Regions from separate parts of the Homo sapiens genome. Here region 1 is linked to region 2. The links come from fine-mapping of genetic effects on gene expression. A gene starts in region 2. The other region holds a variant in brackets. All regions are shown on one strand. Distances are from middle to middle.

Region 1 (4,395 bases), 24 kb after region 2:
CTTACTCTGTACAATGGAGCTAATTATGCCTACTGTTCAGACTAAATGAATTATTATTTATAAAGCCCTTAAAGTGGCTACTGCACTTATGAGCATGTAATGTACGTAAATGGTTTAATGTATGTTAATGGTTTAGTGCTGGGAAGAGCAGGGGCTTTGGCGCCCTTCAGATCTGATGCCAAGACCAGCTGTCATTACTAGGGTGTGTGCTTAGGGAAGTTGTCTATCCTCCCTGAACCCAGGTTCATCACTGGTAAAGGGGGTGATTAGTACTAATTTGCAAGTCTGCTGTGATTACTCTATTTCTAGAACATTTTCATCACCTGAGACAGAAAATCTGTCAACCATTAAGCAATCAGATGAGATATCTTTCTTCTTATTTAGGTCTTTAACTTTTGTCACTAGTGTTTCGTAGTTTTCAGTGTATGTGTCATTGTTGATTACATTTATTCCTAACATTTTATCCTTTTTGATGCTACCATAAATGAATGAAATCATTTTCCTAGTTTTCTTTTTGCATTGTTCATTGCTGGTGTACAGGAACACAACAAACTTTTTTTTTTTATACGGAGTCTCACTCTGTCGCCAGGCTGGAATATGGTGGAACGATCTCAGCTCACTGCAACCTCCACCTCCTGGGTTCAAGCAATCATCCTGCCTCAGCCTCCTGAGTAGCTGGGACTACAGGCTCATGCTGCCATGCCCGGCTAGTTTTTTTTTTTTCTTTGTATTTTTGTAGAGACGAGGTTTCACCATGTTGCCCATGCTGGTCTCGAACTCCTGAGCTCAGGCAATCTGCCTGCCTTGGCCTCCCAAAGTGTTAGGATTACAGGCATGAGCCACTGTGCCCAGCCCACAACAAACTTTTGAGTGCTGGTTTTGTATCTTATACTTCGTTGAATTTGTTTATTGGTTCTACCAGTTTTGGGGGTATTATTTGGGTTTTTCCACATATACGATCATGCCATCCGTAGCTGGACATGGTGATATGTGCCTGTAGTCACAGCTACTTGGGAGGCTGAGGCAGAAGGATTGCTTAAGCCAGGAGTTCAAGGCTGCAGTAGGCTATCATTGTGCCACTGAACTCTAGCATGTGAAACAGAGTGAATCCCCATCCCTAAAAAAAAAGATAAGGCCATCTGCAAATAGAGATAATTTTACCTCTTCCTTTTCAAGTTGAATGCCTTTTATTTCTTTTTCTTGCCTAGTTGCTGTGGCTAGAACTTCCAGTAGCATGTTGAGTAGATACGGCAAAGAAGCATCCTTGTTTTGTTCTTGGAAAAACTTTCAGTCTTTCACCATTGAGGATGACGTTAGCTGTGAATTTTTCATAGATGGCCTTTATTATCCTGAGGAAGTTTTTTTATAGTCTTATTTTATTTTTTTTATCATGAAAGGGTGCTGGGTTTTGTCAAATGCTTTTTCTGCATCAGTTGGATTCACTATGTATTTTCTTCTTCCCTTCATTCTGCTTATGTGGTATGTTACATTGATTGATTTTTGTATGTTGAACCACTCCTGCATTCCTGAGATAAACCTCACTTGGTCATGGTGTCTGTTACTTTTACTATGCTGCCCGAATTTGATTTGCATTTCTTTTTGTAAATATTTTTGCATCTATGTTTATAAAGGATATTGGTCTTTAGTTCTGTCTTTTCTTGAGTATTTAGAAAGATATATGACAAAGATTTCTCTAAAAACTTGGAGATTACAACATTGATAAAGCCGGGTTTCTGCAATGAGGGAAATTATCAAATTTCTAGAGCCTGGGAAAATACTGAACAACGATGGATGATCCATTTTATTTCCCGCCCTCACTGGCCACCATCTTTCTTATTTCACAAGACAAAGGCGGCTCAGTAGTTGCAGCTAATATTTGCTTTAACTTTTAGGATACATGTGCACAATGTGCAGGTTAGTTACATATGTATACGTGCCATGCTGGTGTGCTGCACCCACTAACTCGTCATTTAGCATTAGGTATATCTCCTAATGCTATCCCTCCCC[A/G]CTCCCCCCACCCCACAACAGTCCTCAGAGTGTGATGTTCCCCTTCCTGTGTCCATGTGTTCTCATTGTTCAATTCCCATCTATGAGTGAGAACATGCGGTGTTTGGTTTTTTGTCCTTGCGATAGTTTACTGAGAATGATGATTTCCAATTTCATCCATGTCCCTACAAAGGACGTGAACTCATCATTTTTTATGGCTGCATATTATTCCGTGGTGTATACGTGCCACATTTTCTTAATCCAGTCTATCATTGTTGGACATTTGGGTTGGTTCCAAGTCTTTGGTATTGTGAATAGTGCCAGTTGCAGCTAATATTTGGATTTGTTGTATCCATTGAGTTCAGGGAAAGAGTGTGGGTTTAGTGCCCAGAAGAGGCCTAGGTTTCAGCCCCAGTCCCTTCTTTCACCAACTGAGTGACGTGGGGAGAGACACATACCTTCTCTCCACCTCAGTGTCCTCCTTTACCCAGTGGAAATGATGATGCCTGCCTTGAAGAGTCACATGAGCTCATGCAATAATCAGATACTGCTTGGCATATGGTAGATAATAAGTGATAATCAGTTACTTTCATAGTTCCTTGATGATGCCTATATTCTTCTGATGAATGACTCCTGGCTACCCCAATGTAATATGATACTATAACAGCATCAGATGCTGGCCGTTCATCATTCATTCATCAATCTAATGCTTATTTAGGTGACCACTACATGCTAGGAGCTGTTCTAGGTGCTAGGCAACAGAATGGACAAGTCCGACAAGTCCTTGTCTCCATACAGCTGTGAAGCATGAGAGGGCTGGGCGATCAGCTCTGACTTGCTAAGATTCTGTGCCTCTCCCCTGGACCATCTGACTCCTGACCTTGGAACCCTGACTGCCCTTATGTGTTCCATTTTTGGACAGTGCTTTTCTTCCTGTTCCTGTAGCTGCCTCCTGCTGCTCTCTGAGTATTGTCATTCAGACTATTATACCCTGTGCTCTCACAAGTGGCCTTTAGAGCCCTGGTAAGACCTGAGTGCACTTTGCCCTGAAGGTGGTAGGAACCAGATTATACCTCTCCTGAGAGCAACCTGCATGCCTGTCATGCATAGGGAAGTTCCCTAAGTACCACACTCTGGCCCACTCTGGGGCCTGGCAGATGCCATTCCTTCTGCCTGAAATTATCACCTATTTTTTGTCTGGCTGAGTCCTGCTCAGCCTTCCAAACTCACCTTGGAAGGAAGCTGGGAAGCCTGACCTTCCCCTGAAATAGTCAGGTGATGGACATCCCCACCTCTGTGCCTTCCCCTACAACCCCCTGGGCTTCCTTCTACCAGCACTCACTTGATCCTCCCTCCCCCTGGTGTGTGTCTTACCTGTGTCACAGGGTCATTGAGAACCTGTGCAGGGTAGGCTCAGTGTCATTTATCTACCTATCCTCAGCACCTGGCACAGGAGGGCAACTCGTGAATATTTCCTAAATGAAGAAATCAATAGTGAAATGTGTATTGTTTTCCCTGTCCAGGACCTTGGCTTTAACAATGAAAAATACGTTTAGAAATGTACAGCCACATGAAAATAAAATATACAGAAGGGAAAATACACTTAGCTAATAAGCCTCATGGAACAAAGAAATGCATGGGAAACAAGCAACAATGCCTCTTCTGTTGAGTTAACCAAAGATTGAAGGAGTGATAATACTCAATGCTAACAAGTAGGTGGTGACAGGAGCACCCGCACACTCCCACACTGCTGGAGGCAGTGGACATTGGTACAATATTTTCAGAAAGCAATTTGGCAATACGAGTCAGGATTCTTGCAAAACTCTTATGACCCCCTAAGTGTTTTTCTACAAATCTACCCTCAGAAAATAATTACACATGGGTAAGACTTAGGTGCAAAGATGTCCTCTGTAGCATATTAAATAAATAAAATGACCTACTAAATGTCCCAAAGTAGAAATTGCAATTAAAACAATGACGCCAGTGCCACAGGTATAGTTCTAGGTAGCCAATAATGGTGACATTTTTAAGGAATTTTTAATAGGCCAGACATTGCTCAAGATATAATGTTAAGAGAGACTGGCCGGGTGTGGTGGCTCACGCCTGTAATCCCAGCCCTTTGGGAGGCCGAGGCGGGTGGATCACGAGGTCAGGACTTCAAGACCAGCCTGGCCAACATGGTGAAGCCCCATCTCTACTAAAAATACAAAAATTAGGTGTGGTGGCAGACACCTGTAATCCCAGCTACTTGGGAGGCTGAGGCAGAGAATTGCTTGAACCCAGGAGGCAGAGGTTGCAGTGAGCTGAGATGGCACCACTGCACTCCAGCCTGGGCAACAGAGTAAGACTCCATCTAAAAAAAAAAAAAACAATGAGAGACCACAGTCTGGGAAGGATAGTGAGGGGCTA
Region 2 (4,395 bases):
GTGTTCCCACTAGTGTTACCGGAAAAGGATCCCAATCCAGACTCCAGGAGAAGAATTCAAGGCAAGTTCATAAAGTGAAAGCAAATTTATTAGGGAAGTAAAGAAACAAAAGGATGGCTATTGCAGGCAGGGCAGTGGCACGGGCTGCTCGACCAGATATACTTATAGTTCTTTCTTGATTACATGCTAAACAAGGGGTGGATTATTAGTGAGTTTTCTGGGAAAGGGGAGGGGATTTCCCAGAACTGAGGGAAACTTTTAGACCACATAGGGTAGCGTCTGGACGTTGTCATGACATTTGTAACCTGTCATTGCACTGGTGGGAGTGTCTATTAGCATGGTAATGCATTATAATCAGCATATAATCAGCAGTGAGAATGACCAGAGGTCACCATCTTGGTTTTGGTGGGTTTTGGCCAGCCTCTTTATTGCAACCTGTTTTATCAGTGGGGCCTCTGTGGCCTGTGTCTTGTACCTACCTCCTATGTCATTCTGTGACAAGAACGCCAAACCTGCTGGAAATGCAGCCCAGTAGGTCTCAGCCTCATTTTATCCAGCCCCTATTCAAGATGGAGTTGCTCTGGTTCAATGCCTCTGACACTAGTGTGCCCAGAGGCGCACGCGCTGGGCTCTCGCAGGTGCAATCATTCTCTTCTCTGCGTCCCGCCCTCCTGGTAACTGACAAGCACCCATCTCAGCCCCTCACCTTTCTCGTGATACGGCCAGCCCTCTCTTCTACTTGATGGGCACCTGACATGGTGAGGGTGGTGGGGTTCAGTCAACACATGTGAAATGAATTTCCACAAGAGTGGCTGGAAAACAAGACCGGAGAGGGAGGAAGCAGCTGGATTTTTGAGCTCCCTGGGTCACAGAGGAGCCCGATACTGCCTGTTTATGAAATCGTTGCTACCCAGCAGGCAACCAAATAAAGACACCCCAGAGTTTAGGAGACAGATTGGGAGCTGGGGGTGGGGGAGGTCACACAGATTAAACCATGTTCTCATCTAGTTCAAAATACTCCTGCCTGGCCCATTTTTAGGAACAGTGCTCAGAAAGAAAAAGTAGAAGGGTGCCCCGGGCCTGCACCTGTTCATGGTCTGCCTTTGGGGGCTGGAAAGCCCATTAGCCAGGCGAGTGTCCTCATCAGGCCAACGTGGGCCCATATCCCTGCTCTGCTGGGGGCGCTGGCAGACTATAAAGGCTCTCTCCGAGGCTTCACTGTCCTCATCCCAAAAAGAAGGACGCGATGCCCCTGTCCTCAGAGCTGAAGTCACAGCCAGTGAACAGGGCTGCCTGTAGGTGGAGCCCCTGGCACAGAGGGGTGCGCGTTACCTGCTCTCACCTGCTCAGACAGGAGGGGGCCTCTCAGATCTGGAAAAAGAGCCAAGCGCGCCCCCTCCCCAGGCCCCCTGGTGGCGCCAAACTTCCCAAAGTTTCGGGCAGCTGCGGCACTAGTCGGTGGTCTATTTCAGACCCGCTGGAAAAGGGAGCAGAGTATCAGTGAAGTCTATAATTGGACAGAAAGTTGTCAGCCCCTCTTTTGGGCTTCCCAGGGCCACCTCGTTACTGCCTGGACCCTAACGCTGTCCAGTCCCCCACAGCCCTCCCGAGGTCCCTGCCCACCTTTCCCCGCAGCCCCTCGCCACTGTCCGGGGCCTCGTCGGCCTCTCTCGTTTTCTCTGGGGTCCGCCCCTGCACCTCCGGCCCCTCCCCGCTCCCAGCCCCCTGATTTTCCTCCTCCTTCGCGGCTTGGCCCCCGCCCGCTCCCGCCCCGAGCTCCTAGGCCCGCCCCCGCCCCAGCTCCTCCCCAGCCCCGCGCTCTTAGCCGGGGAATCCCAGCGCTGAGGCCAGCTTGCCCCTGGGGAGGCTCCAGACAGCTTTGTTCCTGGGCAGTGGCGGGGCTGGCCGAGGCTGCGGCGTTTCTCCCCAAGGAAGTGTCTTCTCCGCTTTCCCTGTTCTTCTGTTTCTCACACACTTTCTATCTCATTCTGTAACTTTCAAGCCTTTCCTTCTAACTGTATGTATTTAGTTACTTGTTTTCAAGCTGGTTCCCTCTCTGGCCCCCTGGCCTGGGGAAAGCCTCCACACTTACTGCGGGTCTTGTTTAGAGTCTGAGTTTGTGAGATTATTTGGGGGAGAGTGGGCGAGTGGCTGACAGGTGACCCCCAGGAGGAGGATTCCTGGGGCTGGTGTCTTCTCCCAGCTGCTGCTTCCAGTGGGCCTGGGCCCAGGACTGGACCTCCGCTGGCACCCCTGAGTGCCTCCCTGCCAGGTAAGACCCGGGTTCTCTTCTTTGCTGCAGTGCTGAAGGTCACAGACTTCAGCTGACGCCCATCTTCCCAGATGACAGTGAGGGACGAGAGGCGGGGGGTGGATGCGGGCTGGGGAGATGTTCTCTCCAAATACAGACGCGTTTCCTTCTGAAGCCTGAGCACACTTCGCTCTTTAGGGAGTGACTATAGTTGGAAGCAGATGTGTCTGTGTCTTGACTTAACTTCAGAGTAAAATAGCGGCAAATCCGTGAGAACACACCTGTTTGATTCTAGCTGAGCAGCGAGGAGCTCAGCGATGGCCGCCGAGAGTCAAATGCGAGAGCTTGTTTTCAGATTGCTATAATACTTTAAAGTAGTTGAGATGTACCAGCTCTTTAAACTTTCAAGTAAGAAGTTTGCAGTAAAAGGAGAAAAAGATGCGGGGGAAATGGAGCAGGGGGTGGGGAAAGAATAGTCTTCGTTTGGTTTTACATTTACTGTCAGGGAACTTAGCTTTCTTGATCTAAATTTAGATCTCATTTCTATTTGAGCATTTTATCCCCCCTCTCCCAGCCTTCTCTAGGTCAGAGAGGTGTTTTTGTCCTTCCCCCAATCCCTGCGTATCATGTTCTGTAGCAGACCAGAGTTTCGTGTGCCACTTTATTGAGCACGATTTGAATTAGCTGTGTTATTGGAAAATGAGTCCTCACTTCTCCCCACTCAAGGCAAGACTCAGGGATGACAGGTGGACATGCTTATCAACCATCTGCAGAAGGAGGCACCGCCTGCCGGCCTGTTCCAGAGCTGTGTGCCGGGTCCCCCTCCTCAGAACTTCATTCCATGACTTGTCATCTTCCAGAGCCCCATCCTGACACTTTTTTTTTTTTTGAGGCCGAGTTTCACTCTTGTTTCCCAGGCTGGAGTACAATGGTGCGAGGTGCAGCCTCGGCTCACTGTGACCTCTGCCTCCCGGGTTCAAGCGATTCTCCTCCTGACTCAGCCTCCTGAGTAGCTAGGATTACAGGCATGAGCTACCATGCCCGGCTAATTTTATATTTTTAGTAGAGATGCGGTTTCTCCATGTTGGTCAGACTGGTCTCCAACTCCCGACCTCAGGTGATCCGCCCACCTTGGCCTCCCAGAGTGCTGGGGTTACAGGCATGAGCCACCACGCCTGGGCCCATGCCGACACTCCTATGTCTACGTGGGTCTTTCTCACTCCTAATCTGTCTCTCATTGATGATTTCTACCAGGCAAATCATGGAAAGCTGAAGGCCACATCTTCAGGCTCCTGGTTAAGTTCAAAGGTTCCAGGAAAATTTGAAATTGCAGGGCTTCATTTTTGTTAGAGGCCTGCTGCATGGGGTACGCTGCCCAGCTGCATGCAAGTTGCAGTTGAAGGATGTGAGCTTTGCTGCTAGTCTTGTCTTCCAGTGCTAACTCTGTTGCTCTCTTTGGCTGCCCTGGGTCAAGCAGCTATCCTCAGTGAGCCTCAATTTTCTCTTTTGCTGATGGAGCTGATGGAAGAGATAGAGATAGATAACACAAGAGGCATCTGGTACGTGGTGAGCATGCAATATATCTTAGTTTGCTTCTGTTTCACACACCTGGGGAGCTTCAGCAGGAAGCACCCCCACCTCATTCTAGATTTCCTTGTCGCTGTGCTACTGAGGCACTGCGCAACTGTGGGAAATGGTCACTTTGATATTGTTGGGCCTGTCTTATTAGACAAGATGCTGCATCCAATGAGGATTTTCTTTCCTGGGGTCCAAGAGTGGCTCCCAGGGATCCATGCATCCTTTAAAACATTTGGAGCAGAAGTTTGTGTCTGGTTTTTCTGTGGTTTGGTCAAACTTTCATCAGATTCACGAAAGGTTTTATACCTACAAAATGATTAAGTAAATGGCCCCTAAACGGATGCAGTCCACAGACAGTTTTAAGGCTTTGTGTGTAGTTTCAGTTATTGCCAACATAAAATGATCAGGAGATTTCATGTTACAAATCTTAGTCTCTGGTTTCTCTTTTGGCTGGAATCCCTGCAAGGCTGTCCATGGCTGGGGTGAGGATTAGCCATCCCCTTTAGACAAGGCATGTGCCCTCTGGTCATCCGCTGTCATCTGTGTGACCTGCAGGGCCTCTGAAG

Direction of the effects. Alleles are on the strand shown, and positions count from the first base shown. SD is a standard deviation of normalised expression in the study named.
As copies of G replace A in region 1, the expression in gastroesophageal junction of the gene that starts at base 1,850 in region 2 goes down (moderate effect, 0.57 SD a copy in GTEx).

Evidence for each region. PIP is the estimated chance that this variant, and not a neighbour inherited with it, causes the effect.
Region 1: its variant is the best candidate, but not a certain one, in a credible set for the expression of COL22A1 in gastroesophageal junction (GTEx, PIP 0.59).

Annotation. Positions count from the first base shown.
Region 1 is chr8:138,887,190-138,891,584 of GRCh38, reverse strand. The region is part of intron 1 of COL22A1 (collagen type XXII alpha 1 chain); the gene reads left to right. Among named protein-coding and RNA genes, the nearest start is that of COL22A1, 25 kb to the left of the region's middle. The variant A/G (reference allele first, on the strand shown) is at 2,008.
Region 2 is chr8:138,911,496-138,915,890 of GRCh38, reverse strand. It overlaps COL22A1 (collagen type XXII alpha 1 chain), which reads left to right and starts at 1,850. Exons shown (of 65, transcript NM_152888.3): 1 at 1,850-2,272. RefSeq lists an enhancer at 1,904-2,749.